Linked DNA regions of Homo sapiens. The protein of the gene in region 1 purifies or fractionates together with the protein of each later gene. This does not show direct contact. Each region holds a gene or a part of one and is shown in the gene's direction. Other genes may lie near its edges. The genes, in order: PRKACA, AKAP11, AKAP5 and PALM2AKAP2.

Evidence for each region.
Region 2: the proteins of PRKACA (region 1) and AKAP11 purify together in Homo sapiens (affinity purification with mass spectrometry; 5 studies listed by BioGRID and IntAct, with this or other methods). This does not show direct contact.
Region 3: the proteins of PRKACA (region 1) and AKAP5 purify together in Homo sapiens (affinity purification with mass spectrometry; 6 studies listed by BioGRID and IntAct, with this or other methods). This does not show direct contact.
Region 4: the proteins of PRKACA (region 1) and PALM2AKAP2 purify together in Homo sapiens (affinity purification with mass spectrometry; 5 studies listed by BioGRID and IntAct, with this or other methods). This does not show direct contact.

What each region holds. Positions count from the first base shown.
Region 1 is NC_000019.10:14,100,740-14,107,762, reverse strand, and holds part of PRKACA (cAMP-dependent protein kinase catalytic subunit alpha), read left to right. Parts: coding exon of another isoform or gene 1-52; intron 53-353; coding exon 354-415; intron 416-874; coding exon 875-1,003; intron 1,004-4,848; coding exon 4,849-4,947; intron 4,948-6,854; coding exon 6,855-6,937; intron 6,938-7,023.
Region 2 is NC_000013.11:42,296,129-42,303,151, forward strand, and holds part of AKAP11 (A-kinase anchor protein 11), read left to right. Parts: intron 1-919; coding exon 920-1,054; intron 1,055-2,404; coding exon 2,405-2,669; intron 2,670-3,234; coding exon 3,235-7,023. UniProt on the Homo sapiens protein: Binds to type II regulatory subunits of protein kinase A and anchors/targets them.
Region 3 is NC_000014.9:64,461,182-64,468,506, forward strand, and holds the start of AKAP5 (A-kinase anchor protein 5), read left to right. Parts: upstream 1-4,317; 5' UTR 4,318-4,432; intron 4,433-6,950; 5' UTR 6,951-7,213; coding exon 7,214-7,325. UniProt on the Homo sapiens protein: Multivalent scaffold protein that anchors the cAMP-dependent protein kinase/PKA to cytoskeletal and/or organelle-associated proteins, targeting the signal carried by cAMP to specific intracellular effectors.
Region 4 is NC_000009.12:109,775,246-109,783,198, forward strand, and holds the start of PALM2AKAP2 (PALM2-AKAP2 protein isoform 3 (PALM2-AKAP2)), read left to right. Parts: upstream 1-4,952; 5' UTR 4,953-5,242; coding exon of another isoform or gene 5,243-5,243; coding exon 5,244-5,288; intron 5,289-7,953. UniProt on the Homo sapiens protein: Binds to regulatory subunit (RII) of protein kinase A. May be involved in establishing polarity in signaling systems or in integrating PKA-RII isoforms with downstream effectors to capture, amplify and focus diffuse, trans-cellular signals carried by cAMP.

The sequences.
Region 1 (7,023 bases):
TCCCAAGGCTATAAATACCTCGGCTGGCGTCGGCCCTGGCCATGGAATGTCGGTCAGAACTGGGGCGAGTGGGGGTGGGCTGGTCTGCCTGGGCACCTCCCTCCGTTCCCCTGCGAGTGACCCCTGAGACTCTCTGTACCCCACTTTGGATGGAGTGGCAGCTGGATCCCACCTCTCTGTAGCAAGGGAGGCCCAGGCCACGGCCCAGCCAAGGCCCCAGAGGCACCAGAAAAAGGTCAGGCTCTGGGTTGGAACTGCACCCCACTTTCCACCAAGTATCTCCCCAGAAATCACCTGAACCCACCCCGGTGAGACGGGCGTCTCTGTATAACTCTCCCCTCTCTCCCTTTCAGTGAAAGAATTCTTAGCCAAAGCCAAAGAAGATTTTCTTAAAAAATGGGAAAGTCCCGCTCAGGTAAGGCTGCCGGGTGCAGAGCCCAGGGAGGGGTGAGCTGCTAACCCCCAGCCCCTGGCTGTGTCCCAGCAACACAGCTAGAATTTCAGAAACCCCATAGAAGGCTTCAGACCCTCCCCATTTGCTCCCTAGGTGCCCATGGGGGCTCCTGTGTGGAGACACCTGACTGCCCAATGCCAGGCACCCCCATCCCACCACCCCTCCCAACGGCCCGCCCCTGCCCCCAGCACAGCTGCCAGCAGCTTCCAGGCCCCAGGCCAGGGCCGGATCTGGCCCCTGCCACCCGCCTTAAGGAATGTGCCCTCTGCCATCTTGATTTTCCGCCCCCTGTCCTCACCCCGCTGACCCCACGTGCTCCCCGGGGCCCCCTCTGCCGGTGGCAGAGGGGATGCCCCAGACCTTAGCCAAGCAGGCCGCGGGGAGGGCGTGCCCTGAGCCTACCGACCCCTCTGCCCACAGAACACAGCCCACTTGGATCAGTTTGAACGAATCAAGACCCTCGGCACGGGCTCCTTCGGGCGGGTGATGCTGGTGAAACACAAGGAGACCGGGAACCACTATGCCATGAAGATCCTCGACAAACAGAAGGTGAGGTGGCCTGTCCTCGCTCAGGGCCTGCCTGTCAGGCCTTTGCCTGGACTGTGCCCACTCCTTAGAGTGCCCTATCCACCCGTTCACTCACTTGCTTTTTTTTGATTCAGAGTCTCGCTCTGTCGCTCAGGCTGGAGTACAGTGGCGTGATCTCGGCTCACTGCAACCTCCACCTCCCTAGTTCAAGCGATTCTCCTGCCTCAGCCTCCCGAGTAGCTGGGATTACAGGCGCCTGCCACCACACCCAGCTAATTTTTGTATTTTTAGTAGAGATGGGTTTTCGCCATGTTGGCCAGGATGGTTTCGAATTCCTGACCTCAGGTGATACACCTGCCTCAGCCTCCCAAAGTGCTGGGATTACAGGCGTGAGCCACCGCGCCTGGCCGCTTGGTTTTTTTGTGGGGGACAGGATCCTGCTCTGTTGCCCAAGCAGGAAAGTGCAGTGACGTGATCATAGCTCACTGTAGCCTCAAACTCCTGAGCTCAAGAGATCCTCCTGAGTAGCTGGGACTACAAGCGCACACTACCATGCCTGGCTAATTTTTTTTTGTTGTTTGTTTGTTTTTTGTTTTAGACAGGGGGTCTTGCTGTGTTGCCCAGGCTGGTCTTGAACTCCTGGCCTCAAGTGATCTCCTACTTCAGCCTCCCAAAGCACAGGGATTACAGGCATGAGCCACCATGCCAGGCTCACCCACTATTCCCCGAGCCCCCATAATGTGCCAGCCCCAGGGGTCAGAAGGGCCCTGTGCCGCCTTCCCAAAGCTCCCTCTCCAGGCCGGCCATGGATTCAAAGCCAGGCACTGTGACACAGGGTCAGACACCAGCCCAACAGGAGGAGAACAAGAGCACTCTTGGGGGAAGTGGTGTTTATGTGCACTTTCTTCCCGTAAATATTTTTGTGATCGGACTTTATACCAGGCACTGCTATAAAGCAGCAATGTAACTAGCAGAAATGTAACCTGAGCCACAGAAGCAATTTTAAATTTTCTGTTTGCTCCATCATAAACAGTAAAAACAGCCAAGCACGGTGGCGCACGCCTGTAGTCCCAGCTACTAGACAGGCTGAGGTGGGAGGATCACTTGAACCCAGGAGTTCAACTCCAGCCTCGACAACACAGCCAGACCCCATCTCTAAAAAAACACCCAAAGTTTGTAATTAAAAGAGAAAATGAAAGAAACAGGTGTCATTCATGAAATTCATTTTAATGACATGTTTGGGGCTTTTTTTTATGTTTTTTTTTTTTTGAGACAGAGTCTCACTCTTGTCGCCCAGGCTGGACTGCAGTGGCGTGATCTCAGCTCACTGCAACCTCCACCTCCCAGGTTCAAGTGATTCTCCTGCCTCAGCTTCCCAAGTAGCTGGGATTATGGGTGCCACCACCACGCCCAGCTAACTTTTGTATTTTTAGTAGACTTGGGGTTTCACCATGTTGGTCAGGTTGGTCTCGAACTCCTGACCTCAGGTAATCCGCCCGCCTCAGCCTTCCAAAGTGCTGGGATTACAGATGTGAGCCACCACACCTGGCCTAATGATATGTTTTAATTAAGCCAGTATATCTACAGTATTACCCTTTCCATATATTATCAATGTGAAAATATCATTAATGAAACATTTTACATTCCTTTTGTTTTTTTCCCAGTCCTCCATGACTTCGGAAATATTTCCTTTTTTTCTGTACTGAAGTATCTTTAAAATCCAGTGTCTATTGTATGCTTACAACAGTTCTCAACTCTGATGGTAAATTTTTCCTGGAAAGATAAGAAAAAGCAGGGAAGTTGAAAAAGCAGATTCACATGCCCAAGTTGTTCCAACCATGCCTGAAAGTCACCAGTACCTGCATCAAGAGTTTAATTTTTGTTTTGTTTTGTTTTGTTTTGTTTTTGAGATGGAGTTTCGCTCTTGTTGCCCAGGCTGGAGTGCAATGGCATGATCTCAGCTCACTACAACCTCTGCCTCCGGGTTTCAAGCGATTCTTGTGCTCCAGCCTCCTGAGTAGCTGGAATTACAGGCGCCGGCTACCACGCCCAGCTAATTTTTTAATTTTTTTTTTTTTTTTTTTTGAGATGGAGTCTCGCTCTGTCGCTCAGGCTGGAGTGCAGTGGCACGATCTTGGCTCACTGCAACCTCTGCCTCCCGGGTTCACGCCATTCTTCTGCCTCAGCCTCCTGAGTAGCTGGGACTACAGGCGCCCACCACCACGCCTGGCTAATTTTTTGTATTTTTAGTAGAGATGGGGTTTCACCGTGTTAGCCAGGATGGTCTCCATCTCCTGACCTTGTAATCCACCGGCCTCGGCCTCCCAAAGTGCTGGGATTACAGGCGTGAGCCACCACACCTGGCCAGTTTTTAAATATTTTTAGTAGAGACAGGGTTTCACCATTTTGGCCTGGCTGGTTGTTGTTTTTTTTTTTTTTTTTTTGAGACGGAGTCTCGCTCTGCCACCCAGGCTGGACTGCAGTGGTGTGATCTCAGCTCACTGCCAGCTCCACCTCCCGGGTTCATGCCATTCTCCTGCCTCAGCCTCCCGAGTAGCAGGGACTACAGGCGCCCGCCACCACACCCGGCTAATTTTTTGTGTTTTTAGTAGAGACGGGGTTTCACCATGTTAGCCAGGATGGTCTCGATCTCCTGACCTCGTGATCCACCTGCCTCGGCCTCTCAAAGTGCTGGGATTACAGGCGTGAGCCACCGTACCCGGCCTGGTTGTTTTGTTTTTGAGACAGGGTCTTGCTCTGTTGCCCAGGCTGAAGTGCAGTTGGGCTCAAATGATCCTCCCACCTCAGCCTCTGGAGCTGCTGGGACCATAGTCGTGCCATGCCCAGCTAATTGCTTTTGTTGTCCTTGTTGTTGTTTGTAGAGATGGGGTCTCGCTACATTGCCCAGGCTAGTCTCAAACTCCTGGGCTCAAGCGATTTACCTGCCTGGGCCTCCCAAAGTGCTGGGATTACGGGCGTGAGCCACCATGCCCAGCTGGTGTCAGTTTTTTAATTTATATTTTAGATACTTAAAATTTTTGAATTTGGCTCCCCATCCGACCAGCCATATTTCAAGGGCCCAGCATCCCCCTGTGGCTAATGGGGACTGAACTGGGTAGGGCAGGTATAGACTCTGAGGACACAGCTATGTGAGCAAAGCAGTTGACAGCTGACTGAGGGACCAGGCTGGCCACATGTTACACACCAGCCTGACATCAGCCAGCTGTGTGACCTTGGACAAGTCACCTCCCCTCTGTGTCTGGTCTTCCAAACTGGCGTACTCCCAGCATGGGCCTCTAGGGCTTCTATCCTGATTCAGTGAGAGACTGGGTGCCAGGTGCCTGCTCATGGCATCTGCTATTAGGGGACAGCTGATGGCTGAGGAGCTGTTAGCCTGAGGTTCAGGTTGCTGTGTGGAGTGTTCTAGACAAGGGTAAGGCAGGTCCTAAACCCCCCACCTCTTGGGCTTCTCCTGCCTGTCTTTTCAATTTCAGTTCAGCTGCCCCTTCCTCCAGAAAGCGCTGTCTGATTCCCCCTTCCCCAGACCACGCCAGGTACTTTACATGGGCTTCTTGGGGGCTGCTTCTCCACAACCCCAAGATACCCTCCACCACGGCTCTGACCTCTGTGGGGGTAACCCATGTATTCTTTGCCCTGGACTTAGTGCCGTGCAAGGACAAGCAGCCCCTAGCCTCCCTGATGCTGTGTCCTCAGCATCAGCTAAGGGCCCGACAGGCCACAGGCACACAAATGATTCTGGCTGAAGGAACCGGCCTGGCTCCGGCATCCCTAGTTCCAGGCATTAGGGGAAATGAGGCCCCTCTCACCTCCCCCTCCTTTCTGCCCTCCCCTCCTTCCCTTCCCAGGTGGTGAAACTGAAACAGATCGAACACACCCTGAATGAAAAGCGCATCCTGCAAGCTGTCAACTTTCCGTTCCTCGTCAAACTCGAGTTCTCCTTCAAGGTGGGGTCCCAGTGGCCAAGGGCGGGGGGTCACTGCATTGGGTCCCAGCCTTCTGGCCCCCAGGGCTGGGGTCGGAGCTGAGGACAATCAGTGGCTGCTCTCTTTTGTGGAAGAACAAGATCCCTGGAGGAGGGAGATCAGGGGACAGGAGTCAGGCTGGGACTCTGGTAGACCCAAGTTCAGTTCCTGGTCCAGCCAGTTTGTAGTTCGATACCCTTGGTGAGTCACCCAACCTCAGTAACATCCCTCAAAAGCAGCACCTGGTTTATGGTAAGAGCCTGACCCAGGAGCACAAACTCTGCCCCAGGCAGCCGGGGTTCATTTCCCAGTTCAGTACTTCTTGATGTGTGGCCCCGGGCAAGAGACTTATCTCCCCAAGCCTCAGCTTTCTCATGGTAAAATGGGGATCATACCAGTTCCAGCCTGGTGGGGTTGTCATGACAGTTCCAGGCACGTCTTGAGCGCCCTTTGGGAGCCGTTTTGGGTGCCATCCAAAGCTGTGGTCATGAGAAACAGGAAAGGCCACTCAGGGCCAGCTTCATGGACGTTTGACCCAGAGAAGCACAAGGGCCTGTTCTCCGAGGGACCCCACACCTGGTTTAACGCTTTGCTGCTGCTGCTGTCTTGAGATCCGTAATAATTTTTTTTTGTTGAGACAGAGTCTCACTCTGTTGCTCAGGCTGGAGAGCAGTGGCGCAATCTTGGCTCACTACAACCTCTGCCTCCTGGGTTCAAGCAATTCTCCTGCCTCAGCCTCCTGAGTAGCGGGGATTACAGGTGCCCACCACCATGCCCAGCTTATGTTTGTATTTTTAGTAGAGACAGGATTTTGCCATGTTGCTCAGGCTGGTCTTGAACTCCTGACCTCAAGTGATCTGCCTGCCTTGGCCTCCCAAAGTGCTGGGATTACAGGCATGAGCCACTGTGCCAAGCCTAATTTTTATTTTTTTTATTGAGACAGAGTTTGGCTGTTGTTGCCCAGGCTGGAGTGCAATGATGCGATCTCAGCTCACCACAACCTCTGACTCCTGGGTTCAAGCAATTCTTCTGCCTCAGCCTCCCGAGTAGCTGGGATTACAGGCATGTGCCATCACATCTGGCTAATTTTGTATTTTTTAGTAGAGACAGGGTTTCCCCATGTTGGTCAGGCTGGTCTTGAACTCCTGACCTCAGGTGATCTGCCTGCCTCGACCTCCCAAAGTGCTGGGATTGCAGGTGTGAGCCGTGCCCGGCCATTTTGTTTTGTTTTGTTTAAGATAAGGTCTTACCCTGTTGCCCAGGCTGGAGTGCAGTGGCGCAATTACAGCTCACAACCTTTGCCTCCCAGGCTCAAGCAATCCTCCCACCTCAGTCTCCTGAGTATGAGACTACAGGTGCACGCCATGATGCCCAGCTAATTTTTGTATTTTTGCAGAGACGGGGTCTCACTATGTTGCCCAGGCTGGTCTCAAACTCCTAGGCTCAAGTGATCCACCCACCTTGGCCTCCCAAAGTACTGGGATTATACAGGCATGAGCCACCACACCCGACCCTCTGTAATAATTTTTTAACCAGGGGCCATCTTTTTTATTCTGGGCCCCACTAATTCTGCAGCCTATCATGATCCCATTTTACAGATGACAAAACTGTGGCCTCAGAGCCTTACTCAAGCTCCCAGAGCAAGGTACTACAGAGTTCTCTCTCCAGCCAAGGCAGGCTAACCAGGTCCTGACATACCTCTGAGCCAGCCCTCACTTTCACCCATTAACAGCAGGATAAGGGTCGCCCCTGTAGAACATGATTCCTACAGGGAGCCAGGATCGCTGTTGTCATTTAATGTTTGAACACCAGCCGGGGAGGCCCCCAAGGCCTTCAGATCGGGTCCAAGTCTCAGGGGTGGGCCCTTGACCAGCCACTGCTTCCCACAGGACAACTCAAACTTATACATGGTCATGGAGTACGTGCCCGGCGGGGAGATGTTCTCACACCTACGGCGGATCGGAAGGTTCAGGTAAGCGGGCCACCCCCCATCACATCAGGCTGTCAGGGTGTCCACAGGTGGCAGTGCACGACCAAGCCCCCTGGGAATGCAGAGGA
Region 2 (7,023 bases), on another chromosome or scaffold:
ATAGGCATACTTTTCTTTTTCCCTCGTGCTGCTTCTTAAAAATTTGTGATTCCTACATATTTCCTTTTGTGGCAGTAAAGTGTCTCCTCATAGAGGAGGAAATAACATTTTTAGGTCTTTCTGAATAATGCATATCAGGTGATTATGGGCAAAAACTGCTGTATATTTTGATTGTGGCCTTGCTTGAAGGAAATAATTTGGACAGAAGGAACAAGAGAGGATATATTCTTGAGAACATACATAGCTGGAAAGAGAAGTATTCCAAGATATTTCTTTAATGTTCTTCTTCTCCTTTAAGAGTTACTGATAAAACCATGTTTATAAAGGAAAGTACTCTACAAAGGGTCAAAGACTTTAATAATTCTTTAGCTGGGTAAAATATTTGTGTATAAAGGGCAAACAAGAAGAAGAAATAAAAGCGATTTTCTTTTCCTTTAATCTTCATTAAAATTATCAGTTAAAGTCTAATACAATACCTTGGAGAGGAAAGATAGAAAAACGGATTATATTGTACAGAGTTTTTAAAAAAAAGTTTTTAAGATGTACATTCTCTAGCAAAAAATTTTGTATGAAAAAAATTTCATAAAGTTAAGTTAAGACCTATATGTTGACATTGCTAAAAACTATTAAATGCTTAATTGTCATGGATGTGTTAGGTACCCTGTACAATTTTTTTATAGCTTGATATCAGTACATTTTAAAGGCTACGGGGATAGCCAGTATTTAATAATTTTAGTATATTTTATTTTTGAATTTTTGAAAAATTATCTGTGAATAATAAACTGTATATGTTAACTATTATGAACCAGGAAATTCACTAGCCAGTAGACCTTAAAATTTTTGGATAGGGTCCACATTATAGGAACCTTAACAAAAGTGTTACTCTACAGTGTTACTTATTGTTATTATTTTAAATCAGGATTTAGCTGCAGTTTCTTTGGAACTTCCAGATATTCTGAATTCACTCCACTTCTGCAGTCTAAATGAAAATGAAATTATTTGTATGAAGAATATAAATAAACCATTAGATATAAGCAGTGATCCTCTAAATCAGGTAACTTTTGTAGATAATTTCTAATGAGATTTTTAGGGCAAATTTTACTATATTTGATAAAGATGATTAAACTTTTAAATGCTTGGATGACATTTGTTTTTTTTAAATGGTATCTCAAGGAAATATGATTCATAAGAAATATAACTCATGAAGCATTGACATCCCTGAAGGATATAATAATTTTGGTCATATCTTATAAATTATATTTTTTAACTGTGAAGTTCCGTAGATGGTATGCAAGTACATGTTAATTTTTTCTGAAAATTTATTATTTCTGGATTTCTTGAACTACTTTTACCTTTGTATAAGCTACAGTGACTTTTCCCTATTATGGCCAATTTCAAATTTATATAAATGTTACGCTATATGTTTTAGAGAATGTACTTCAGTTCATTTTCTGGTTTAAAAAAATTCCATGTAAAGTGGACATCTGATGTGTTCTTTATAAATAAAAATGTTACCATTTCTTACAGGTGGTTAGTTTTATAATATTCAGCATTTAGTTCTTTACCAAGTATGATTTTGTTGATAATGCATCAGAGAAAATGCTTTGCATTCTAAGAGATAAGACATATACAATTGAACCAGAAAATTTAAAATTTGGATTATTTTAGTTTTAAAAAAACTGCTATGTTGTTCTTTATAAGGTCTGCCAATAAAACTAGAACTGCTTGCTTCATTTCCTTAATTATGTTCTTTATTCGTATTTGCTTTATTTGCTAGGATATAAGAGGTGATAAGCTATTATATTTGATTTCTAGTTTTTTGAATAAATAATTTCATCAGTATTTACTTGAAAAAAGTAGTATGAGGGGGAAAATCTGGTTACTTGTATTTTTAAAGCTATAAACATTGTAAGTTGTAATGCTAGGGAAATTTAAGTAAAAGGAGTAGACTTTTAACAATTGTGATAGGAAGGAAGATGGCATCATACTTGAAACTACGGGAAAATGGGATTAAAAATAAAAGAAAATAGAACTTGGTTGCTGCCCCCAAACAATTTATAATAGTTAGTGAGATAGGTGAATGATTAAGGAAAATCATAGGGCTGTACAGTAATACAGGAAAACATAATTGCTCAAAGGAATGGATAGTAAGTTTCATAACATTTCAGGAGACTGGGTAGAATTTGAATACCTGGATAAAAGAAGATGGGAGAAAAAAGGACTGGAAAGTGAAAAATGTAGAGAAAGAATTAAGAAGTAAACATTACAAAACCAAGGAGCTTTTCAGGATGCATGAATTTCTTGTTTGTTTTTTTCTCTGAGATTGTCTTATATCTAGGCTTTACTTCATGTTGTTTTGTATTTGAAATTAAAATTGTTTTTATTATCTTTTATCTTTCCCAAGAGTCATCCTTCTGGAATGCTTTGTGTCATGAGAGTGTCACCTACATCACCAAGACTTAGGATTGATTTTATCTTTAGTCTCCTAAGTAAATATGCTACTGGTATAAGGTACACCTTGGACACATTCTTGCATCAGAAGCACCAACTTGAGACCACTGATGAAGATGATGATGATACTAACCAGTCTGTGTCATCCATAGAGGATGACTTTGTCACTGCTTTTGAGCACTTAGAAGAGGAAGAGACTTCAAAGCCATACAATGATGGTTTGTTTTTCATTAGACTTTTTCCTAAAATAGGGAATTAAAATTTTTCAGTTTTGAAAATTTTAAGGCAGGCTTGTTCAGTTGAAATTTATGTTGAGATTTGATTCAATTTAAACCTTTTAACTTTTTTTCTGATTACCTAAGGAAATTCCTTATGATTTTTAAGTTCATTGTAATCTGGTTTTCAGTTTTGCTTATTTCAGGTTTTCATATTTAGTTGGTGCTGTTCACGCACTGGTTACATCATTAAGTGTCTGGAACATTCCTAGGTTCCAATTTTGGAAGAGTTAGCTGGCAGAGTCTCCACGGTAATTTTTCTAACATGCGTGACAGCATGCAAAACATCCCATAGACCAGGTATCCCTAGACATAGAGTAAACTGAAATTATTTTATAAACAGTATATTTACTTTCAAATGTTACTTGGGTGAATCTTTCTGTTAAACATAGTTTAGAAGATACACATAAATATTATATGTTTAAAGTCAGTTTATTCCATGGATTTAAGTTAATTTCCAAAAAGTTTTGTTCAAAAATAATTTCACCATTTCATTCTTTTCCTATAGGAATGAACATTACTGTGCTAAGGAGCCAGTGTGATGCTGCTTCCCAGACGGTTACTGGTCATCATTTAGAAACCCATGATTTAAAGATTCTCATTAGCTCTGGACAGCAGAAGTCATTGGCTAAACCCTCAACTTCCTCAGTGAATGTCCTGGGACATAAAGAACTACCTTCTGTGAAAACTTCAGTCACAACATCAATTTCAGAGCCTTGGACCCAAAGGAGTTTCTATAGGTCATCTAATGCTTCAGATAAAGATAGTGATTTACAGAAAACATTTTTTTCGTCTTCTCCTGCCTACTCATCTGAATCAGAATGTTCAAGTCCAAGTCCTGTTATTTTCTTGGATGAAGAGGGATATCAAAAAAGCTTAAAAGCAAAACTTGAGCTGCCTAAAATTCCTGTGATGAAAGATGATATAGAGGATTCAGACTCAGAAGTAAGTGAATTTTTTGATAGTTTTGATCAGTTTGATGAACTAGAACAAACTTTAGAGACTTGCCTGTTTAACAAAGATCCCGTCATAGGGAAGTCATCGCAGAGGAAAGGGCACAAACATGGAAAGTCATGTATGAATCCTCAAAAATTCAAGTTTGATCGTCCAGCTCTCCCAGCTAATGTTAGAAAGCCAACTCCTCGTAAACCAGAATCTCCATATGGTAACCTGTGTGATGCTCCGGATTCTCCTCGCCCAGTGAAGGCATCAAGGGAAGATAGTGGTTTATTTAGTCCTATTCGATCCTCTGCTTTTAGTCCTCTTGGAGGCTGTACTCCAGCTGAATGTTTTTGCCAAACAGATATTGGTGGAGATAGGATTCATGAAAATCATGATTCTGTTTATTACACCTATGAAGACTATGCAAAAAGCATTTCATGTGAAGTACTAGGCTCAGTTCTTCGTACCCACCATACTAATACCCTATCAAATATTAACAGTATTAAACATGGAGAAAATAAAACTGTAACTTTTAAGCATGGAAACCTTGATCAAAAAAATAAATCTAAAAATAAATCCTTAATGATTAAAGATAGCATTCAAAAATTTGCAGCAGATCTTGTGGAAAAAAGTTTTGGCAGTGCATTTAAAGACTTACAGAAAGGAGTCTCTTCATGTACCAATGCTTTGTACCACTTAGCCATCAAATTGACATCATCTGTTTTGCAGATGGCATTTGATGAGCTGAGAAGGCAGCGTGCATTTTCACTAAAAGAACGTGCCATTAGTGGCCTGGCTAACTTTTTGGTGAGTGAAGCTTTATCAAATGCCTTAAAAGATTTACAGTATGTAAAGAAGCAGATATTCACAAACACAGTTGCTAGGTTTGCTGCAGATCTTGCTGAAGAGCTTGTTTTTGAAGGCATCATGGAGGTGTGTCAGTTTTCATATCCTCAAACGCCTGCATCTCCACAGTGTGGGTCGTTTGACTTTGAAGACAAAGTAGTGAAGTTGTATGCAAAAGATTTGTCTGAATCTGTAATACAGGAAGCATTCATTGAGCTATCACAAGTTGATGTGACCTTTACAACAAAGGCAGCAGTTAGTGTCTCTACGGATAATATCAAGTATGTGAGTGCAGAAAGTGTAGTGCCATCGACACAGGCTGTCACGTTTTCCCCTTCTTTTCACAATCAAGCAATTATGGTGACAAAACCAGTGCAGGAATATAAAAAGGAATACACAGTGCAGCAGGCCTTGTTTTGTACTTCTGGAATTGTTACTTCTATACCGGTGCCCTTGGCAGGAAGTGCCCTTCTCCCATATCATATTTCATCTACTGCATGTCAGGCCAAGGCTCATCTGTCATCTGATGATAGTAATTCAAATGGTGATTCTGCCCAAGTGCATATTGCCACAAAAAACAGAGAAGAAAAAGCAGCTTGTCTCAGAAATATTTGTTTACCTTCAGAACACAATCCAGGTAATCAGAATGATTTTAAACCAACTAATGACGATATTGAAATGCAGAGTTCCTCAAAATTACCAAATGATCCTGCAATTATTAGCAACTTTTCTGCAGCAGTGGTGCATACGATAGTAAATGAAACTTTAGAGTCAATGACATCATTGGAAGTTACAAAAATGGTTGATGAACGTACAGATTATTTAACTAAATCTTTAAAGGAGAAAACCCCTCCATTTTCCCACTGTGATCAGGCAGTGCTGCAATGCAGTGAAGCTAGTAGCAATAAGGACATGTTTGCTGACCGGTTATCTAAATCTATTATTAAACATTCCATAGATAAGAGCAAATCAGTGATCCCAAATATAGATAAAAATGCAGTATACAAGGAAAGCTTGCCTGTTTCTGGAGAAGAATCACAGTTGACACCAGAAAAGTCTCCCAAATTTCCTGACTCTCAGAATCAGTTAACTCACTGCTCACTTTCAGCTGCAAAGGATTGTGTTCCAGAATGTAAAGTTTCTATGGTTCATGGATCCTCCCTAGAGACACTGCCATCTTGTCCAGCTGTGACAGGTCAGAAATCTGACTTGAAGGAATCTGCTAAGGATCAACCACTGAAAAAGCATAACTTGAATAGTACATCACTTGAGGCCTTGTCTTTTGGACAGGAAAACCCCTTTCCTCATTCACATACTTTCTCATCTACAGCACTTACCTGTGTAGATGGTTTGCATGTGGAAGATAAACAGAAAGTCAGAGACAGAAATGTAATACCTGATACTCCTCCATCAACTCCTCTAGTACCATCCCGGGCTAGTTCTGAATGGGATATCAAGAAGTTAACTAAAAAGCTCAAGGGAGAATTAGCCAAAGAGTTTGCACCTGCTACACCACCTTCTACTCCACACAACTCATCTGTTGGTAGTTTGTCTGAGAATGAACAAAATACTATAGAAAAAGAAGAGTTCATGTTGAAACTCATGCGATCTCTTTCTGAAGAAGTTGAGAGTAGTGAAAGTGGAGAGCTCCCAGAAGTGGATGTGAAGTCGGAGCACTCAGGGAAGAAGGTTCAGTTTGCAGAAGCATTAGCTACACACATCCTTTCTCTTGCAACTGAAATGGCAGCTTCCCATTTAGATAACAAAATAATTCAAGAACCCAAGGTTAAAAACCCTTGCTTAAATGTGCAAAGTCAAAGAAGTGTGTCGCCTACTTTTTTAAACCCCTCAGACGAAAATTTGAAAACATTATGCAATTTTGCGGGTGATCTGGCAGCAGAAGTCATTACAGAAGCTGAGAAAATAGCAAAAGTCCGAAATTGTATGCTTTTCAAGCAAAAGAAGAACAGTTGTTATGCTGATGGTGACGAAGATTATAAAGTAGAAGAGAAGTTGGATATAGAGGCTGTAGTGCACCCAAGAGAAGTGGATCCGTTTATTCTTTCATTACCACCAAGTTCTTGTATGTCAGGTCTGATGTATAAGTATCCCAGCTGTGAAAGTGTGACAGATGAATATGCAGGTCACCTTATTCAGATACTAAAACAGGAAGGTGGTAATAGTGAGTTGATAATGGATCAGTATGCCAATAGGCTTGCCTACCGATCTGTTAAATCAGGATTACAGGAAGCAGCTAAGACAACCAAAGTGCAGTGCAACTCAAGAATGTTCCCTGTGCCAAGTTCACAAGTGAAAACAAACAAGGAACTGTTAATGTTTTCAAACAAAGAGCACCACCAAGAAGCAGACAAAAAGAGACAAAGTAAAAGAAATGAAGGTTACTTTTGTAAAAATCAAACTTGTGAAAGGACCCTGGATCCATATAGAAATGAGGTCTCCCAACTGTATAGTTTTTCAACCTCTCTGGTTCACAGCATAACAAAAGATG
Region 3 (7,325 bases), on another chromosome or scaffold:
GCTGATGTTGGCAAAGCAGTATTTTTCCCAGTGACCTTGGTTTTATTATTTTTAATTCCCTAGGTCCATGTCAATGTTGTAATACAGTCAATTTTACAGTCCACAGAAATGATAGCGCTGCCTTGAGAGGCATATGGCAAAGGGGTCACAGTGCAGAGCCCCAGCTCTATGGCAGAGAGCCTCACCCACCTCCCTGCCTCCACATCCTCACCATGGAAATAGGAGCACTGTTGGTACCTACCTCGTGAGGGCGGTTCTGGAATTACTCAAACACATCATCTAAGATGCTTTGTACAGGGCCTGGCACATTGTAAGCACTTGTCAGTTCCTGTTGCACAGCATCCTCCAGGCCCTGTTTGCAGAGTTAATTGCTTCTGGTACTTTTTTTTTCCTTTTTTTTTTTTTTTTTTGGCAGGGGGGGTAGGGGGGTTGGGACAAGAGTCGTGCTCTTTTGCCCAGGCTGCAGTGTAGTGACGTGATCTCAGCTCACTGCAACCTCTGCCTCCCGGGTTCAAGCGATTCTCCCACCTCAGCCTCCCGAGTAGCTGGGATTACAGGTTCGCACCACCATGCCTGGCTAATTTTTTGTATTTTCAGTATAGATGGGGTTTTGCCATGTTGGCCAGGCTGGTCTCAAACTCCTGGCCTCAAGTGATCCTCCCACCTCGGCCTCCCAAAGTGCTGGGATTACAGGCGTGAGCCACTGTGCCCGACCGCTTTCTGGTACATTTCTTAATGTCCTGTGAAACTTCACCTGGAATGGGATTTGCTGGGAATTCATTTTGTAGACAAGGGAAGGATGCAGTCTTGTCAGATATGGTGACTTAAGGATCATCTTAAAGGATTTAGGTTTCCTAATATCGCCAACAGCCACATGGGTTTAAATCCTCAATACTGGTAGGGGCTGGGCATGGTAGCTCACACCTGTAATCCCACCACACTCAGCTGAGTTTTGAAGTTCTGTTTTTTGTAGAGATGGGGTCTCACTGTCTTGTCCAGGCTGCTGAGGCAGGAGGATCACTTGAGCCCAGGAGTTCAAGACTAACCTGGACAAGACAGACCCCATCTCTACAAAAAACAAAACCCCAAAACTCAGCTGAGTGTGTGGTGCACGCTTGTAGTCCTAGCTCCTTGGGAGTCTGATGTGAGAGGTTTGCTTGAGCCTAGGAGTTCGAGGCCGCAGTGAGCTATGACTGAGCCACCGCATTCCAGCCTGAGCAACAGAGCAAGACCCTGTGTCAAAATAAAAAAGACCTATAGAAGCATTAGTGCTTGGGGTAACTATTAGCATGTGCTGGCAGAGAAGGTCTAGTGCCTTTACCTTGGTGCTAAGAGTCCCTCCAGATTAGTGGCTTTCCCGTGCCCTTTCTCTTCTCTGGGCTGCTAATGCCTTCCTTCCCCTTATTAGTAATATTACTGATAAACAAATTGTACATTCTCTGATCTCACTTCAGAGGCTGTTTCTGTGCACTGAAGATGTACACACAGTCTTAATTCAAAAGAGATAGCATTTATGTGCTGCCACATTAAACAGATTGCAACAGTATTACTATTGAGTTTGTGTTGGCTCTGTGCAACCCTCATGGTGCCCAGGAACAGATGAAACCACCAGAGACTTGGAGCCTCAGGTTCATTCAATGGTGTCCCAGGGAACGGGGTTGGAGGGCTTATTCCCAGAAGGCCTCTGAAATGTAAGAGCTATTAACAAGGAGTTATAAGTCATTTTTGGTAGCTATAGGCCCAGGCAATGGGTAGAGATCAAGATGGGATAAATGGTAAGATCAGTAGAGTATTGCTCAGATAAATATGTAAGCTATTTTACTGGCACACTGTATCTAGTGATATTAACATGATAAGCTATAGGTAGGATAATTTCTCATCAGATTGCAGAAATACATTTATAGCCTATTTCCTGTTATATAATGAAAAGCTACTAATGGGGTAGTAGACAATGATATGGGTAATAGCTTAAACAGCCTTCGTTGTCACTTACCTGAATTCAGGAATGACAGGTTTCTTTCATGCATGAGGTACTGGATACATTAAACACACACACACACACACACACACACACACACATATGGCATTGAGTTCTAGTCATATCCTAAAGAAAAACTATGGTGCGCTATGTTATTTATAGTACTATACTCTGTGTGAGTGACTCTGTGTGTATGTGTGTTGGTGGAGGTCAGGGATGACTTGTTTGTAATATACCTTAAGGAAGTCTGTCCGAATTTGCCCTTCAAATACTAAATAAATTCATCTCTCACCTCAAACTGCCTTTCAGTTCCCTTTTACTAATTTTGTTTAAAAGAAAGGCAAGTGAAGGCCAGGCATGGGGGCTCACACCTGTAATCCTAGCACTGTAGGAGGTCAAGGCAGGAGGATCACTTGAGCTCAGGAGTTCAAGACCAGCCTGGGCAACATAGGGAGACGCCATCTCTACAAAAAAAAAAAAAAGAAGAAGAACCTGGGCATGTGGTCGCATACCTGTGGTCCCAGCTGCATGGGAGGCTGAGGTGGGAGGATTGCTTGAGCCAGGGATTGTACCACTGCACTCCAGCCTGAGCAAGACCCTGTCTCAAATAAAAATAAAAATAAGACAGCTATTTTACCCTGTCTTCACCTAAATAAGCTCATCTTATTTTTTGCCTGAAACTCTTGCAAACTCCCAGGTCTGCTAGTTTTGAGAAACCTTGGATCTCAATAAGGAATAGTTCTCAATTGCTTATAAGCATAATGGATTTCTTTTGGCTTAAAGTTCAAAACTGGCAACAAGCAGCGCTAGCAACCCATAGAGAGATACGCAGACCATTTCGATAGACGTGTTTGCTGAGTGAACAAGGCTGACTGAATTTTTTTTTTTTTTTGAGGCAGGGTCTCACTTTGTTGCCCAGGCTGGCGTGCAGTGGTGCAGTAGTGGCTCACAGCAGCCTTGACCTTCTGGGCCCAAGTGATCCTCCCTTCTCAGCCTCCTGAGCTCCTGAGTAACTGGGACCATACGTGCACCACCATGCCCAGCTAATTTTTTAGATTTTTTTGTCTCCCTATGTTGCCCAGGCTGGTCTCAAACTCTTGGACTCAAGCCATCCTCCTGCCTTGGCCTCCCAAAGTGCTGGGATTACAGGTGTGAGCTACTGCGCCCATCCCTGAATTCTTAATTACAACTAAACTAGATGCTTATGGATTTTCCTGTTTTACAACTCTTGCCTCTTTTATCTGTAATTTTAAGATCTTGACAGCTTATATTTGGCTTTGCTTTTGTGTCTCAAGAGTTCTTTCCTTGATAAGCCTCTGTGGAAACTACAGAATCTTACAAATATAAAACATTTCCGGAAAAAATACAAAAATGGACACCTGACATTTACACTCCCTAAGGTCGTGATCCTGTTGAAGAAAGGAGATGAACGCGGCTGCTTTTCAGTAGTTCTTCACTTCACCTTACCAGGTTCTTCATCTGGATGCTATGCTATGGGGGCCAGAGGAGGAGGCTGGGATTGTGATGGATCCTACTAGATTTTACAGCTGGAGCTCCCAGGAATGCCCTCATAGGGAATGTCCTGAAGGGAATCATGGGTAACTTGTAAGCTACCTCAACTTATTTTTGGAACTATGTAAGGTATAAGATGGATGGAGCTGGGTTCCTGTGCCTTTCTCACCTTGTCCGCATAGAGATGCAGCTGCTCCTGCAGGCCAAAGTTCTGCACCAATCACCTCCACCTGCTTCCCACTGGGAGACAAAGGTTTGAAAGCCTGTTTGGCGATGAACCACGATGATCTGACACTCAAGCCACTCCTGAGAAAGTCGGGTTTCTTTCTGTTTCCATTTATATATGTAATTTTCGCTTCAAACAAACATGACCTCGCTATTCTATGCACAGTTTTGAATCCTGCTTTTAAAATGCGATGTCTGCCTTGTCTTTAAATATTCTGAGGGGGAGGAGAGGAGATGTGTAATGCGACTGTCTATAATTTGAAACCGGACCTCACTATTTAGCGTCTCAGAAAACGCGGGGTTCATTGCCCTGGTCCCCCCCGCCTTCCCCCGCCCCCCGAACCTTCCGGCTGGCTCTCTTGCGGTCCCCGCCTCGGCGCTGATGTGGTCTGGCAGTGGAGATTGGCGCCCGGGCGGAGCACGATGGGCTTCCCCGCGGCAGGCAGGCAGGCTGCTGCTGCAGGTGGGTCCCGGCGCCCGCGCCGCCCCGCGCCTCCGGCGGTCGCCCCGCCCCTGCCCGCCCGCTCCGCTCCGCTCGCATTGGCGCTGCCTGCTGTCTGTCCCCGCGCGGTGGGGAGGGGGCGCACCCGGCGGCGGGCTCTGCAGAGGGCGCCTTGCTCCGGGTGCGACCGCGGCTCCCTGGAGGCCTGGGCGGCGGGCCCCGCGAGCGCGCCGCCACCTCGGGAGCAGTGTTGGCCAAGGACCCCGACGCCCTACGTAAGTAAAGGCAGGGCGGGGAGCCTGCGGGGGAGGAGGGTCGGGGGCAATGTCCGGTCCGCGGACCGCGGAGTGGGCAAGAGGTGCCCACTGGATACGGGGTATCCGAGCCCTCTGAGGTGCTGGGAGTAAGAACGCGGGAGGTCGCTTGTCCGCTGGAATCCGCGGCCAGGGCGACCCTCATCAGGTCTGCCCACCTATCCCCTTCGCGTTACAGCTTGTCTTAGAAGCATGGGTTGCCGGTGGCTTTTTTCCTTCTTTATCCCTCTTTGAGAAATGTGATTTTGGGTTTCTGGCCATTACATTATAATTCTGCAGACAGCCTGAAGCTGGGTTATCTGTTCCACGCCCCCGGCATTTTCCTTTTTGAGTACTTTATCCTGCGCTCTGTCTCCTGCCATAAGGGGCGTCAAGCCAGAATTCGAGATTCCTTCCTCCAGGAGGAAGCTTCGTGGTCCGTATCTGGTGCTGGGAAAGATGCATTGCTTTCCTCGGGTACTGGCTGCTCAAGGGAAAAAGGAAAGGGGGTGTTTTCTGTGACATGAGACTTGCAATTCCATCAGGAAATGAGCACAGGGACTTTAAGATTTCCTGAGGCGATAAAGCTACCCTTGCTGGTTAAGAGCGAATCATTTGCAGTCTGACATTCTGCAAAGTTTTATTGTCTACAGACTGCATTATTTTCCCTCGTTAGTTAAGTTTCTGTTTGGGTATTCGTTTTATTTCTAGTATGTGAGATACATTCAAGTGAGCTTCTCAAACGATTGTCTTTGCGCAATCCAGGTTAGTTTCCAATGACAGACTCCTAAACATCTCATTTCAATATTTCTATTATGTGGTAATACAGCCTCTGCTTAACAAAAATGCTCAGGTGCTGAAAACTCACAAGAGGTGAGAAGATTTAAACAGTTATCAGCTTAGGTTCTAGTGCTCACTGAAACATTGTGAGGAGAAACACTGTCAAATGTTCATATTTTAGTTCCGTCATTGTTCTAGAATGACTTTATCTTTCTGTTAGAGGCACACAGTATGAAACACCCAACCTAAGATAATATTTACTTAGATCATAAACTGATTTTCAGGGTTCCAGTTCCTTCTACAGTTCATAAAATTATGGGTTACCCAAATGAAACTTCAGTGAAGGATTTACATAAAAACAATATAAAGAATGAGTCCCTTTGCTTATTTTAGGGCATCCACCCACTAAAATTCATAGGATCTTTGTTGGATAATCACCTCCCATTTCCATTCTTTGGTGCCATCATACCATTCTAAGGATTAAATTTTCAATACACCTTTATATTATCTAAGTTTGCCAATTGCATAGTTTGCCAACTTATTTTTGGCTTTTAAATTAGTTCCTGAACCAAAAAAATAAAATATAAAGAATTTCAAAAGCTTGGTTTTCAAATGACAAGAACTCAGTCTACTCGTGGTTCAATTATGAGTTGATAAGTGCCTTATGGTTAAATGACCATTAATCAATTTTTTAATTTTTTTACTAATGAAACACTGCAGATTAGTATCCCCAAACAATTCATTTTCTGACGAAACTCTTAAAGCCCAGTTTCAGAACATAAGCTTTAAGCAACAAGCAATCTTGTGTTAATCTGAGCTCTGTTACAGCTCTGCCGTAATCTCAGCCAAATTGCTTCATCTGTACGTGGTGATACCACCATCTTTGTAATATTGTGGTGAGGATTAGAGATGTATGTAAAAGTGCATGCACTGCCTAATACCCAAGAATTGCTCAATAAATGTCAGCTATTACTACTCTTACTGACTTCCAACTATGTGCAGATTATGGTGGAAACATGTGATACAGCAGATACAGTACTTAAATGAAAATGTCAAAATTGTACAACTAATTTAAGAGTGGGAAATGACAGTAATGCTAAATTTTCCTAAGAATATGTATGAAAAATAGCACTTCCTTGATGGAACATACATTTTTAGAACAGAAACCTTATGTTATAATGGTAAAACTAGAGAGTCAAAGTCTCTAGTTCTAACTCTGGCTATGACCTTATCTAGTTGCATGGCTTTTGACAAGACAACTGCTCCCCTCTGGAGTTCAGTTTTGTCATCTGGCTGGATTTGAGTAATCTCAAATAATCTCTAAAGTCCTTTGCAGCTTTAAAATTATCTATTGAGTGTGATAAAGATTACATCAGCTTGCTTTTCATCCTGCACTTCATTTTTGGTTCTTGTTGTTTGCTTAACTTGCACTTTAGAGTCATAAGCAATTCACACAGACAACACAACTAAAGAACTGATAATATCAGACTTGCAGGGTAATCCAAAATGAAGTTTCAACAAGGAGGATAAAACAAAATAGAATCACACTGAACTCTTTAATAGGGCCAAAGTAAACCCCAATGTTTATTCTCCAGTCATTTCATTAAGTTATTATATGGAAAATATGCCTGGTAGAATCTTATACATTCACTGAAATAGTCTCCACAGAAAATAATAGGCTCATAGTGAAATAAAATACCACTTTCTTTTCTCTCATCAGGTTGATCTTTAAATAAAGCAAAAATTTATCCAAAGAAGGGCTTTCATCAAGAAATTAAAGAGAGAAATTACAAGCCATAGAGAAACTGGGCATTTCTATACTAGAGAAACCACCTAAAACAACTGTATGGAGTAAGATGAAAGGTATGAATATGCCTGGAAGAAATTTTACCTAGTGTGACATTTTTGCTCATCTTTTTGTCACAAAAGGCTGCTAAGGAAGAGAGAATACAGTTTTCTAGAGAATAAGAGTGCAGTGTAAAAATGGAAACCACAATTTCAGAAATTCATGTAGAAAACAAGGATGAGAAGAGATCAGCAGAAGGTAGTCCTGGGGCTGAAAGGCAGAAGGAAAAGGCATCCATGCTTTGCTTCA
Region 4 (7,953 bases), on another chromosome or scaffold:
ACAGTGAAATATTGATATTCATTTCTAGCCAGATTTCCAATTGCTCATTTTCAATCTGCTATGTAAAGACCTTAGCCACTATATACCTTAAGCAACATTCAGCCTAGTTTATTTTTCACAATGGTGCTGTTTTCTGACTTCTTTCTATCTTCTTGCTCCATGGGGACTCCCTAAATGAATCTATCATTTGGATCCCATGGAGAAAAATAGCATATACTTGAAATCCCATCAACTTTCCCAAAGAGCTAACAACCACAGGAGCCAAGAGGACCACAGGCAATGTTCTCCTTCTTTTGATTCTGTGCAGCTATCACATATGTTTTAAATGACCATTTATTTTCAAAAGATCCCAGGCAAAAAAGAACTAACACAAATATAAACATTTGAGGGGATCCTGGCATTCCTTTCAAAATTACTTTTGTCCAAGGGAAGCTTCAGGTTGCTGGGAAATGTCACACTCATAGCTCTTGCTCAACAAGACTGACTTTTACTCACACAACGGGCCTTGGCAAGTCATTTCCCTTTTGGTATACAGAGCTCTTGTTTTCCCCACAAAGGAATTGGCTATGATCGTTTGTGATTCTCAAAGGACTCATGTTCTAAAATAGATTCTGAAATTTTTATTAACAAAACATCTATTTTGCATATCTAGCATTCTGTATCCTTTTCGTATAATGCTTTGCAATGAAGCATCTATCATAAAAACCACTAAACCGTACAGATGGTGTTTATGCAACACAATTTAATGTCCCAGCAAGAACTAGTGATTTGTTACATACATTATGCATCATTGTGATGTATATATCCAGATTTTAAATGTTTGGAGGGCAAATAGTCACCAATATCATTGTGGCACTAGACTACGATTTTTTTTCTTAATACCAGGCCATGGCCAAACATCTAATATAAAATAATTATACAATATGTTTATTAAATAAATAGCATAGTTTGGGTTTTAAATGCCTGTGTTTGTAATGGGTTCAAAGATTTTAAAATACTAAAATTTAGAAAGTTGAAAGAAGTGCTGGAAGAGGAAAAAAGATTTTCCCTCTGCTCCTTGGCCAACCATCAGGCAGTCATTTCATGTGCCTTCCTGTTTCACCTAGGGTTCTTGGTCCCAAGCAACAGAAATAGATTCTGGCTGATAGGAGCAGAAAAAGAATGAAATGAAATTGTATTAGATAGCTCACAGGAGAGATGGAACGTCCAAAGAAGGAAGCTTGGGCAATGGGTACAACCAAAGGTGAACTAATAGCCTGAAGGAATTCTCTAACATGCTCAGTCTCCAAAATTCTTGGCAGGCACACATGCCTGACTGAGCCGAGATTGCCTGCCATACCATGGCTTCAGGGGGATCTGGGGAACAAGTGTCTGATACCTCCCAGCTTCTACCACAGGATGTGGCTCTGCCTCTCACTATGGCTTTTAATATGGGAAATCCCCAAAGATGGGAAGGAGTTCACAAATTGGCCAGCCAGAGGAAAAAAAAATGTGTATATGAACAAGTCTGTTACACTTCCTACCTGGCCAGAAGCATTTTGAATTTCCTCTCTTCTTTGGCTTTTTGTCTTACCTGCTTTGATAATCCGCAACACTGAATAAACACAAGCTTTTTTTATTGTGGGTCTCAGGGCAGTTAAAAATCACTTAGGAAGTACACACTATTGGTCATGAGTCTTTAGTCTATTCCTAGTAAATTCAATTAGTACAAAGGTTCTAAACCCATCCCTAACTCCCACATCACCCTGTAGAAATTTAATTCTGTACAGGTCTTCAGGAGATTCTGATGCAGATTTCTGATTAGGAACCATGTTTTAGTCTTTCTCATCTTTCACAGTTTCTTTACAAACGATTTCTATTTTTCTGAAGCCCCAACCCTACGCCATCAGTCTTAATCAATGACTCTTTGTTCAATTGGGAAAACCAGTCCATCTGATGCAAATTCACTTAACCTCTCTCCTGAGAGTTGAACTCAAACTTTCTTCTTGTCTTTATCCATTTCTTCCTCCTTCCCTACTTCGTTATTCCTTCTTCCCAAGGCTAACTGGCTAATGTGATGCTCATCTGAATGTCCTCTTGACTAATTAGAGACTTTGACTAATATTCACCTTCCTTTTTGACTGTATCTTTGGCCTAATTTCCCTGTTGTCTAATTTGCTTTGACCCCCAAACATCCAAGTCTTGCCTGACCTAAAAACCCTTTCCACTAGACCCTGCTTCCCATGGGCTATGTTCCTGTTCTCCACCTTCATCTTTCACATCTGAAGAGCTGAAAGAAGCAGTTTGTACTCATGGTTGCTTCTCTGATCTCTCGCTCATCCCCATTTTTGTTTGTTTTATTTTCAACATTCACTTGGTAGCAGTCATTCCTCACCTCTTGTAAGTGCTTCCAAGCTCATCTTCTGGACACAAGTCACTCATGGCTTACTGACAGCCCTCCAATGGTCTCTTCTTCATCTGCATCCCCCATGACCTTTCAGAAGCATATGACCCTGTTGAAAACCTCTTTCCTTCTTTGTGGCTTTTGGTGCAAATCCCTTTGAATTTTTCCTTCTACTTCTCGGATGATACTTTATCAGTCTTCTTTGCTGGGCTCTCTCCTCTTCTTGCTCTGTTTTCTCATCCTGGCTGTTCTCATTTCTTTAGCTGTAACCGCAAAGTAGATGACACTTGGATGTGTGTCCCCAACCCCGATTCTTCTATTCAGAGTTCAGATATTTCCAACTGATCACTTCCAAAGGGTGCCCAGGCCCTTTTCCTTCTCCATCTCCCCATTCCATCACTCCTTTTAAAAATTTATTGCGGTTAAAAATACAAAACTTAAAATTTACCATTTCAACCACTTTTAAGCATATGGTTTGATGACAGTAAGTACATTCACACTGTTGTGCTCAATCATACCTTTTAAATATCTGTATAGCTGGGAGTAGAAGGACCATTTCTGGTTCAATTGTTTATTCCTGGGGCCTGCTTCTATCTCCATATCATTGGCCAAGCCTGGTGCTTAATGGTTAAGAGCATGGGCTCTGGTGAGTGTGATCTGAGTTTAAATCCCAGCTCTATAACTGTAGCTGAGTCTTTCAACCTCTCTGGTCTCATTTTCCTCATCTTAGTATTCTCTACAATCACTCTGCTGAAGCAATAACAGCTTTGTTTATTTGTGAGCAAACCCCTTTAAATAACTTGTCCTGCTGGGGCTTGTGCTGGAAATGAAGAAAAAAGGATGCATTTGAAGAAAAGGATGGGCTTAGCCAGAAAGTAGAAGTTTCTGATATATTGGAGTGGGATGTAGAATCTGGCACTGGCTTGGATTTATTAAACAATCAGCTCCACCTACACTTGTTATGAAAAAGATGGGAAAACAATCCATCAGTAAACGATTTTGGTGAGTGCTTCCATCTTTGGTCAGAGGAGTAATTGTTCATCAGTGACAGGTGAACCTCTGTGAAAATTGAAAGGGCAATTTAGTTGAAATGGAAGCATTTATTCAGGAAACAGGTGATCTGGGAAAATTTGATGTGCATTTTTTTTTTTTTTTTTGAGACAGAGTTTCACTCTTGTTGCCCAGGCTGGAGTGCAATGATGTGATCTCGGCTCACTGCAACCTCTGCCTCCCAGGTTCCAGTGATTCTCCTGCCTCGGCTTCCCAAGTAGCTGGGATTACAGGTGCCTGCCACCACGCCCGGCTAATTTTTTGTATTTTTAGTAGAGAAGGGGTTTCACCATGTTGGCCAGGCTGGTCTCGAACTCCTGACCTTAGGTGATCCACCCGCCTTGGCCTCCCAAAGTGCTGGGATTACAGGTGTGAGCCACCGCATCTGGCCTGATGTGTATATCTTTTAACATGCCTTTAAATCCTATGGCTCTAAAGAGGCCATATTAGTTATTTCAGTGTTTATTTCATTTGATGAAGAAACGTTTGCATATGAATGTTGGGAATTCTAGCAGGTCCTGCCTCAATGTGAAGAGGCATTTTTTTTTGCTTTTGGCATTGATCTCCTTTTGGACTGGGCCTGATCCACTTCTTACATCCAGTCCAGGACCTGTCACAAAAGACTCACATTAGTACCACATGGTATCCTGTTTTAGTAAAGAATAGGTGAAATATTTTAGTGAGTAGATCCTACTTTTCCTTTCAGATGCAATGAACAGAAGACCCTGAAAGGATTTCAATCCAGAATGTCACAGGATAATAAGAGCAGATGTCTGTGATGCCCTTTACAAAGCACCTTTACATACTGTCTCTCATTCGTCTCTAATGACACCTATGTGATCCTCCATTTTTTCAGATGAGGAAACTGAGGTTCAGAGTGATTAAGCGAGTTGCCTGAGATTTCACAGCTAACACATTGTGAAATCTAGTCTAGCACCCAGGACTAAAAACTCTCGGCTTCTTTTAAGGCCACATATCGCCTCACCAGAAGGGTGGCCTCTCTGGAGATATACCCTACCCTCGGCCGACTTGATATTGAGAACTTGGTCATCTTAAGCATGTGGGCCACTTGGGCAAGGCAGCCCTTCCCAAATTGTAAATGTCCCCACGTGGAGCTCAAGCGTCTGGCTTGAGCCAGAAGGTGCCCTGAACACTCGGTGGCCCCAGCCCCCACGTAACAGCACGTGCTCGGGTCCCACATTCGGTCAGACGCCCCTCTCCACTGGCATCTGCCCGGTGGAGGCGCCACTGCGCTCTGCCTCCGCCCCAGCAAGCGCGTGTCCACGCGGGCGCGCCACGCCAGCCGTGCGCCCCAGCGGCTCGCCGTGCGCCCGCGCCCCAGGTGCCCACTGGCTCGCGCGCCCTCCGTCTGCGCCTTGGAGACCCGCGGCGGCGATCGCTCGGAGCCGCCTTGGACCGCGGCCTCGGGTCCATCACACTCCAGGGGCGGAGCGAGGCACCGAGACGTCAGGGCGGAGAACTAGCGCCGGGCTAGCGCGCCCTCCCGGCGGCTGCCGGCGTCCCACGTCCTCGGCTGGCGCGGCCGGCGGCGGCGGCGACCGGGAGATGCAGTGAGCGGCGGCGCTGGGGCGCAGCCAGGCGGCCGGGAGGGCGGGGGCCAGAGGCTGAGCCCGGGCGAGCCCGCCGTGCGCACAGCTCTGCCCGCCGCCCCTGGAGCGGATCCCCAGCCGTCCCTGGGCGTTCTCCCGGGTTCTAGCAAAGCCCCCCGGGGTGCCCATCAGTTTCCTTGGGTGACTACAGCGTGTGTTTTTTCTTTCCTCTTTCCCCTGCCTGTGTGCCCTTCTCCAGGATGGCAGAGGCGGAATTGCACAAGGAAAGGCTGCAAGCCATAGCAGTAAGTCCACTTTCATTTTATTTTCTTGCTCTATTGTCTGGGGTGGAAGGGGGCCCCCGAGGGTTTCGGGGCAAGCGGCATGCCAGCACAGTAGCCGCAGGTCATATGTTCCAGGGGCTAAAACTCTGTCAGGGCTCAGCTAGGCTGCCTTTTCTTTTCTATGTCTATAGATGGAGACCCCCAAGGGCGCGCTTTGGACTGAGGATTTGAATGTGGAAGATTGGCTTAAAAAAAGATGCTTGCTGCTGGGCTTTGGGGAAGGACTAAACAGAGGCTTGGGGTGGGGGGACGACTCCAGGAATATTATGACCGAATGCTCAGGCATACGTTGGCTTCATAGCCTGGAGAACCAAGAGAAGGGTGACCTGAACGGTGGCTGCCATCCTCTCTGCGGAAGCTGTCCTCCTGTTAAGTGGAAAACCAGGAGTCAGCGACTCAGCCAGCCACGCGGTAGAACCTCCTCCCAGAAACCGGGAATGTTAGTTTTCCCTTCTCTGTTTGATATTGACAAGGGCACTGGCACAAGCCACCACCCTGGAGGTCTGGGGACTTCATACAACTGGGTCCTGGTTATAATATTCCATGAGAGCCTCCTTCTTATGGTGTGGAGTATCTGAAAACCTATTTTCAGCCTACAAAGGAGTAGTCAGTTTTGGCAAAGTTCGTAGGCACTTTCAGAAAAGTGTACCCATGTGCATCTTGGGTTTAAAAAAGAACTCTCTGAGACTGCCTAGATTTGAGCAATCTTAACACAGTGTTGCCAATGATCCACAGATGTGGTATTTTTACTGGAGCCACCACAGCTGGATTATATATTTCCTTCGAGGATGAGGGAATGATTACTGCTGCCGTATGAAATAGTAACAATTAAAAAAGAAGGTCCGTTAACATATTGGCATAAAAGAATCTCCAGACATTCTTCCACCTAAATACATTTGTGTTTTTCAGTTCGGAAGTTCTCTGGAAACACATATAAATTTGTTGGAGAAATAGTGTGTAATGTTTTGGAACCAAAGTATATTAAAGCGTTTTCCAAAACCTTTTTGGACAGATTCTTCATTGGGAAAATGCACACAGACCCTTCCTTTTTTAGAAGCATTTGACATGGTCTCCAAGGCTCTGAGACCCTCTTTCTCAAACGCCTCAAATCTGAAATGTCTTGGAGACTTCACCACTGAAGTGAGAGAGATGTTTGCTGGCAATATTGAAATGCCATGGTTTGCCTATTAGGTAATCTTTGAACGTGGTGCTCTGAACTCAGAAAGGTTGTTTTTTTCTTCTTTCTCTTTCCCCCTGTGCATGTGTATTTTGATGGTTTGTGAAGTTATTTGTGGTTTCTAAAGTTGGTGGCAAGGCAGCATGGCCAGTGTGTCATGAACTTGATAAGAATGGTGATATTGAGTTAATGGTGCCATGTAGCTGGTGGGTGTTTTGTGTGAACTGGATAATAGGCTGCTTTAACTGTTGATGCAGTGGCTGTTCCCATTGGCTGCTGCTGAAGGCTTCCAACAGTTGTCACATTTTCTGCCTTTGCACAACCAGCTTTACTGGATGCCTGAGGAACAGCTGAACTCCATGAAAGGACTTGCTTTCCAAACATGGAGCCAGTAGCTGCTAACACTGGGGTACCCTTTTCCAAGTGCGGTTGAGTAATCCCAGCAGAGGCCAAGTCGATTTTCCAAGAAAGATCTAGGCAAATCTTTGGGAATTCTCTTGAGCATATAAGAATACACACAAATACTCACTTGTGCCTCTTCAGTTATTGAAGAATTGAGTTTGTCCTGTGTATCTGGGGAGCTGTTGATTATTCTCATGAATGTGCACCTAATACAGTCTGCCCTCCCTATTCATGGGTTCCATATCCACGCCTTCAGTCAATCTTGGATTGAAACTATTGGAAAAAATAATAGATAGCTGAGTCTGTACTGAACATGTACAGACTTTTTCTTGTCACCATTCCCTAAATAATACAGTATAATCAACTGTTTACGTCGCATTTACAGTGTATTAGGTATTATAAATAATCTGAAAATGATTAATGTATGTGGGAGGATGTGAGTAGGTTATATGCAAATACCATGCTATTTTATAGGGACTTGAGCATCCTTTGATTTTGGTATCCAAGGGGGTCCTGAAACCAATTCTCTGAGGATACTGAGGGATGACTGTATGATGTTGTCAGGACAGATTTGCTAACAGCGTGTGTTTGTTTGTGTGTGTGTGTGTGTGTGTGTGTGTGTGTGTATGTGTGTGTGAGAGAGAGAGCCAATTAAGAGACAGAGGGAGTTGGGTGGGGGGACTTATGGCCACATCGGTAAATGGTTTTATGCTATGCTTTGGTCTAGTGCCTACTCTTCTGAATTCTGCAAACCCTGACTCTCTCATCACTTTCCTGGAGTTCTCAGGGGACCCTGAGGAGATCACAAGCCTGCCCCCAGAACCTAGCACTCCTGAAGTCTCTCTGGAGATGTGAGGGAAGAAGACAATAGGTCCTCACATCTTCACTTACTTGGGCTTCTCTCTCAGAGGCAGAGAATCGACTGGGATTCCAGTCTGCAGGGCCTTGGGCAGTCTTTAGTCTGGGTCTCAGCTCCTTCATCTGTAGAATGGGTTCATGAGTTCTACCTCCTGGGCTGGTTGTAAGGTTTAGTTAGGATGGAGGTGA